2 separate regions of the Homo sapiens genome follow, and region 1 is linked to region 2. Evidence: fine-mapped expression QTL. A gene starts in region 2. The other region holds a variant in brackets. All regions are shown on one strand. Distances are between the middles of the regions. Region 1 overlaps OSBPL10 (oxysterol binding protein like 10). Region 2 holds the start of OSBPL10 (oxysterol binding protein like 10).

Region 1 (2,912 bases), 110 kb before region 2:
CGAGCGCCGCCCCCTACTCCATAGCACCCAGTCCTATCAACCACCCAAGGGCTGAGGAGTGCGAATGCATGGCGCAGGACTGGCAGGCAGCTCCACCTGCAGCCCCGGTGCGGGATCCACTGGGTGAAGCCAGCTGGGCTTCTGAGTCTGGTGGGGCCTTGGAGAACCTTTATGTCTAGCGCAGGGATTGTAAATACACCAATTGGCACTCTGTATCTCGTTCAAGGTTTGTAAACACACCAATCAGCACCCTGTGTCTACCTCAGGGTTTGTGAGTGCACCAATCCACACTCTGTATTCTAGCTGCTCTGGTGGGGCCTTGGAGAACCTTTATGTCTAGCTCAGGGATTGTAAATACACCAATCAGCACTCTGTATCTAGCTCAAGGTTTGTAAACACACCAATCAGCACCCTGTGTCTAGCTCAGGGTTTGTGAGTACACCAATCGACACTCTGTATCTAGCTGCTCTGGTGAGGCCTTGGAGAACCTGTGTGTCTATACTCTGTATCTAACTAATCTGATGGGGAGGTGGAGAACCTTTGTGTCTAGCTCAGGGATTGTAAACGCACCAATCAGCGCCCTGTCAAAACAGACCACTCAGCTCTACCAATCAGCAGGACGTGGGTGGGGCCAGATAAGAGAATAAAAGCAGGCTGCCCAAACCAGCAGTGGCAACCCGTTCCCGTCCCCTTCTGCACTGTAGAAGGTTTGTTCTTTCGCTCTTTGCAATAAATCTTGCTACTGCTCACTCTTTGGGTCCACACTGCTTTTATGAGCTGTAACACTCACCCCTAAGATCTGCAGCTTCACTCCTGAAGCCAGCGAGACCATGAGCCCACCGGGAGGAAGGAACAACTCCAGATGCGCCGCCTTAAGAGCTGTAACACTCACTACGAAGGACTGCAGCTTCCCTCCTGAGCCAGCGAGACTATGAACCCACCAGAAGGAAGAAACTCCGAACACATCCAAACATCAGAAGGAAAAAACTCCAGACAGGCCACCTTAAAAGCTGTAACACTCACCGCAAGGGTCCACGGCTTCATTCTTGAAGTCAGTGAGACCAAGAACCCACCAATTCCGGACACACTGTAACACCACTTTTCCTATCCTAGAAGTTTCCTAAGACCACCCACTTGATAAAAACTACAAGAAGCCAGGCTCAGTGGCTCATGCCTATAATCCCAGCACTTTGGGAGGGCAAGGCAGGAGGATCGCTTGAGCCCATGAGTTGGAGAACAGCCTGGGCTATGTGGAGAAACCCTGTTTCTACAAAAAATTAGCCGGGGATGATGGTGTGTGCCTGTGGCCCCAGCTGCTCAGGAGGCTAAGGTGGGAGGATGGATTGAGAGCCTGGGAGGTCAAGGCTGTA[G/C]CACTGATTGCACCACTGCATGCCAGCTTGAGCAACAGAATGAGACCCTGTCTCAAAACACACACACACACATGCACACGCACACACATGCAAGAAATTCACTCTTGCATTTCTTGCATTTAAGACCTTCAAAGTCATACACAAGTAGATTCTCATAAGAATGGCTTTATGACTCTCTCTCAACACTTTCTCCATCAATGCTGCTTTAATTTTTATAATGCACTAAAGGCCGAATGTTTTCTTTTGTTGTTTGTGTTTTCAGGGGAAGTCTGTGTTCTATTCTTCCTGGCAGACCAATCCCATACCCCGGTGACTCCACCTCAAGTAACACCGGAAACCACAGGATGAACCTATGTGACATGGAGAAAAGGGAGATTTTGTCTGTTTGTCAGTTTCTGTCCATGCAGAATCAGAAACTTTCCTAGAAGGGACCCCACCACCCACAGAGGGAAGCACATGGTGGCCCTAGCTGACATCTGTGAGGCTAGATGTCAGAGCAAGGACAAGAAAGCAGGAGACCCAGGTTCCAGTCTTAGCACCACAGCCTCCTGGTTGGGGCTTCTTTGTGTACAAACCAATGGAGGCTGGGCGAGATAGCCAGACCTCTGGATTTCAAAAGCCAATACGTGTTTTGTTTTTGTTGTTGTTTTTTTTTTTTTTTTAAGTCTGGGAATTGATTTAGGGTTATTCACACTTTCAATTTTTCCAAGTAAGAATATTAAGAACAAAAAGTACCATAATTCCACTAAAATAGCTAAAATGTAAAGACAGAATCAACTACTGATACACACAACAGCATGGATGAAATTCAAAAGCTTTTTTTTTTTTTTTTTGAGACATGATCTCACTCTGTCACCCAGGCTGGAGTACAGTGGTGCAATCTCAGTTTGATGTAACCTCTGTCTCCTGGGCTCAAGCAATCCTCCCACCTCAGTCTCCTGAGAAGCTGAGACTACAGGTGTGCACCACCATGCCCAGCTAATTTTTTTCATATTTTTTTGGAGACAGGGTTTCGCCATGTTGCCCAGGCTGGTCTCGAACTCCCAGACTCGAGCAATCTGCCTGCCTCAGCCTCCCAAAGTGCTGGGATTACAGGCGTGAGCCACCACATCCAGCCTCAAAAACTTTTTTGTAAGTAACAGAAGTCTGTTGTGAAAGGCCATATAATTCTACCTATAGAACATTCTAGAAAAAGCAGAACTATAAATAGGAAACCAATCAGCAGTTGCCAGTTGCAGAGGGGTCAGCGAGGAGATTGATCATAAAGGGGGTAACGAGGGAACCTGCTGGCAGGGCGGAATTGTGAGTACAGTGGTGGTTACTCGACTCTATATATTTGTCAAAACTCAGTGAACTTTACACTTAAAAGGAGTTAAATTTTATTGTATGCAAATTATACTCTAATAAACCTCAATTTAAAAAAAATGCAATCAATATTCTACCATATTCTACGATAAAAAGGAAGAATATTTTAACCATCCAAAAGCAAAGCAACATAATTTTTGAAAAAAAGAGTAGTCGTTTATTTTAAATAAAGTTGTC
Region 2 (2,912 bases):
AAAAGGGGGAGGGTATTTTTTCTTTCTTTTTATTATTTTATTTTATTTTATTTTATTTATTTATTTTTTTTGAGTCGGAGTCTCGCACTGTCGCCCCGGCTAGATTGCAATGGCGCGATCTCGGCTCACTGCAACCTCTGCCTCCGGGGTTCAAGCGATTCTCCTGCCTCAGCCTCCGGAGTAGCTGGAATTACAGGCGCGCCGCCACGCCCGGCTAATTTTTTTTGTTTTTAGTAGAGACGGGTTTTCACCATGTTGGCGAGGCTGGTCTCGAACTCCTGACTTCGTGATCTGCCCGCCTCGGCCTCCCAAAGTACTGGGATTACAGAGGTGAGCCACCGCGCCCGGCCTCTTTCTGTTTTTAAACAAAACTTCCATTACAAACATCGGAGGCTGCAAGGCACAAACTGGGGCAGGAGTATGCACAGTCGCCCAGGATGACAAGTGGCAGGTTTTTTGTTGATGGTGGTGGTGTTCTGAAACACCAAACTTTAAAATGAACTGTTACTTAGAGAATTACTGTAATCGGAGCGGACGTGCTAACGCTTTTTCACCCCGGCACAAAGCACGCCCCTTCTGCCTCCCTTTCCCAGTCATTCTTCAGGCGTGCGGGAAACCGCGGACAAGCAGAGCACGGGGACCAGCACGATCCTCCTGCCACCACTCCAGTCTCTGCAGGTGCCAGCATAGAAGAAAACCAGGGCTCTCGCCTCCCTCCCCGCCACTGCGGTGCGGTCCCGGGGTGGAGCCACGGCGCGCCCCATCCTGAGAACCCCACCTGGAGGGGAGCAGGGACGCAGGAAGGGCACCGTTGGGAGGCATCACTGGGTTCGCTGAAGGCACAATCGCGCGCGCACACACATACACAGACACACATACACACACGCACGCACACACACACACACACACACAGCGGCGCGCGGTGGCGCGGGCGGCTGGCGCGTTACCTGTTCTGCCAGCCCTGGAGGAGGTTGGTGTATTTGCTGAGCACGCCCTCGAGCGCCGGCTCCCTCCTGCGGCCGCCTCCCCCGGACGGGCTAGCGGCCACAGAGCCCGGGCTGCTGCGGCTTCCCCCGCCGCCGAGCCCGGCCGCCGCCGACCGGCTGGAGACCCCCCGGCCCGCCAGAGAGCAGGAGGGCGAGGAGCCCGCCGAGGTAGCACGGCTGCTGCTGCGGCTGCTGCTGTTGCTACCCCCGCCGCCGTCTGTGCCCTGGACTGCCCTCTCCATGGTCCGTGGGCGCCCGGGACGCGGGTGCCCGCCGCGGTGGCGGCCCCGGCACGGCGGCTGCTGCTGCTGCTACAGCTCCGGACGCCCGGGCCGCGCGTGCCTGCTCCAAATCCCCGGGAAATGCCTGACTCATACAGGAGGAAGAGGAGGAGGAGGCGAAGGAGAGCTGGGAAGGAAGCCAACGGGGCTGGATGCAGCTGCGGCCGCCCCTCCTCCCGCCGCGGCCAGGGCCCGGCCCCTCCCTCCGCACTAGTTTCCCGGGCAAGTTCGGAGCGGGTGGCCGGCTAGGCGAGCCCTCTTCGGGTTCCTCCTTCTCTTCCTTCGTGTCCCTGCGGCCTCTCAGGCCCTCGGGACACTCTAGGAGGCCGATCTGCAGGGTGGGCACGCCCTAAATCCACGCCAAGTCACCCACGCATTCCTTCTGCCACCCTCTCTTGGATCCGAAGGGGCGAAAGGGAATCTCTGCACGTCACTCCCCACCCCTTATCCACCTCGGGACCTGGAGGGAGGGGCAGCCCCACCCACCCGGTCCACCCGGATATGGACCCGCCCGGCCTGACAGGCTCACACGCACACTCCCTCTCTCGGTCTTCCGCACACGATGCTGCGCCAGACGCTCCTACACAGTAACCTGGAAATTATCACCGGCGGAGCAAAGTCACAGCTCAGGGAGGCCCTCCGCGTTGTCTGGCGGAGGAGGGGAGTGGCAGGTGATCCTCACAGGTAAGCTCGCCGGGCATTTTCATGCAGCAGGATTATGATAAATGCTTAACAGACACACGGCTGGGCTGGGGTGAGGCGCGCGAACTCTCAGGTTTGTGCGAGTGCTTCCTTAAATTGAGTGTCCTAGGTCACTCACTGGCCTAACCCTAATCCCCTGCCCTGAATGGCACGCATAAACCTGGCAAGTCAAAACCTATCCATTGCTACCACACTGCACGTGCACCTAGGAGCAGAGGCTCTGAAACCGGGAAAACTGCTCCAGAGGCAAGGGAAATTAACAGATATTTACAAACATTGAAGGATTCTCTGTGTTGGCTGTAACTTCTGCGCCCCTCTTCCTACCTAAAGATACTCTTTCTATCCCACTAATATTTTTTGTGAATATAGATATCCATTGTAATCTGAAGTATCAAAAATTACCTAGAAAAAAGCTTTGAGGAACTCAGACTCTCTCTCTCACACACACACAGACAAAACAAAAGGTGATAGATGATAGGTGATCTCCGTCCAAAGGATCTACAAACCCATCAAGCAGATAAATACTTCAAGAGTTAAAAAAAATTACTAAATGGAAAAGTCAGCTCTCAAAGGGACAGTTCCCCGAGCCCAACCCCTTTCTAGCTTCACATCCTTCCAGGAAGATTTCATGGGTGGTTTAGCTCTAGAGATGCACGGAGAAGCTTCTGGAGTTGAAGAGAAGTGGTTGTGCCCCTGAGTAAATTACAATTCCAGGTGCCTACATAGTGTTAAAAAAAAAAAAATCTGAAAAGAGCTTGCCTGGACCAAATTTGAAGCCATTCAGAGCTGAATTCTAACCTATGACCTTGATCAAATTACCTCTTTTAGCCTTAGTTTTCTCACTGCAAAATGGGACAAATGATACCGGCTGTAATAAACTATGCAAGAATGTTCATTTGTTCAAAATATTTACTGCCGCTTCCTATGGAAAGAGTATCCTTCC

Evidence for each region. PIP is the estimated chance that this variant, and not a neighbour inherited with it, causes the effect. A credible set is the group of variants that fine-mapping cannot tell apart.
Region 1: its variant is the best candidate, but not a certain one, in a credible set for the expression of OSBPL10 in lung (TOPMed, PIP 0.79).

What each region holds. Positions count from the first base shown.
Region 1 is chr3:31,870,437-31,873,348 of GRCh38, forward strand. The region is part of intron 3 of OSBPL10 (oxysterol binding protein like 10); the gene reads right to left. Among named protein-coding and RNA genes, the nearest start is that of OSBPL10, 110 kb to the right of the region's middle. The variant G/C (reference allele first, on the strand shown) is at 1,371.
Region 2 is chr3:31,979,952-31,982,863 of GRCh38, forward strand. It overlaps OSBPL10 (oxysterol binding protein like 10), which reads right to left and starts at 1,311. Exons shown (of 12, transcript NM_017784.5): 1 at 948-1,311. The coding sequence starts at 1,228. ZNF860 (zinc finger protein 860) reads left to right here and starts at 1,799. Exons shown (of 2, transcript NM_001137674.3): 1 at 1,799-1,951. RefSeq lists a silencer at 1,001-1,070.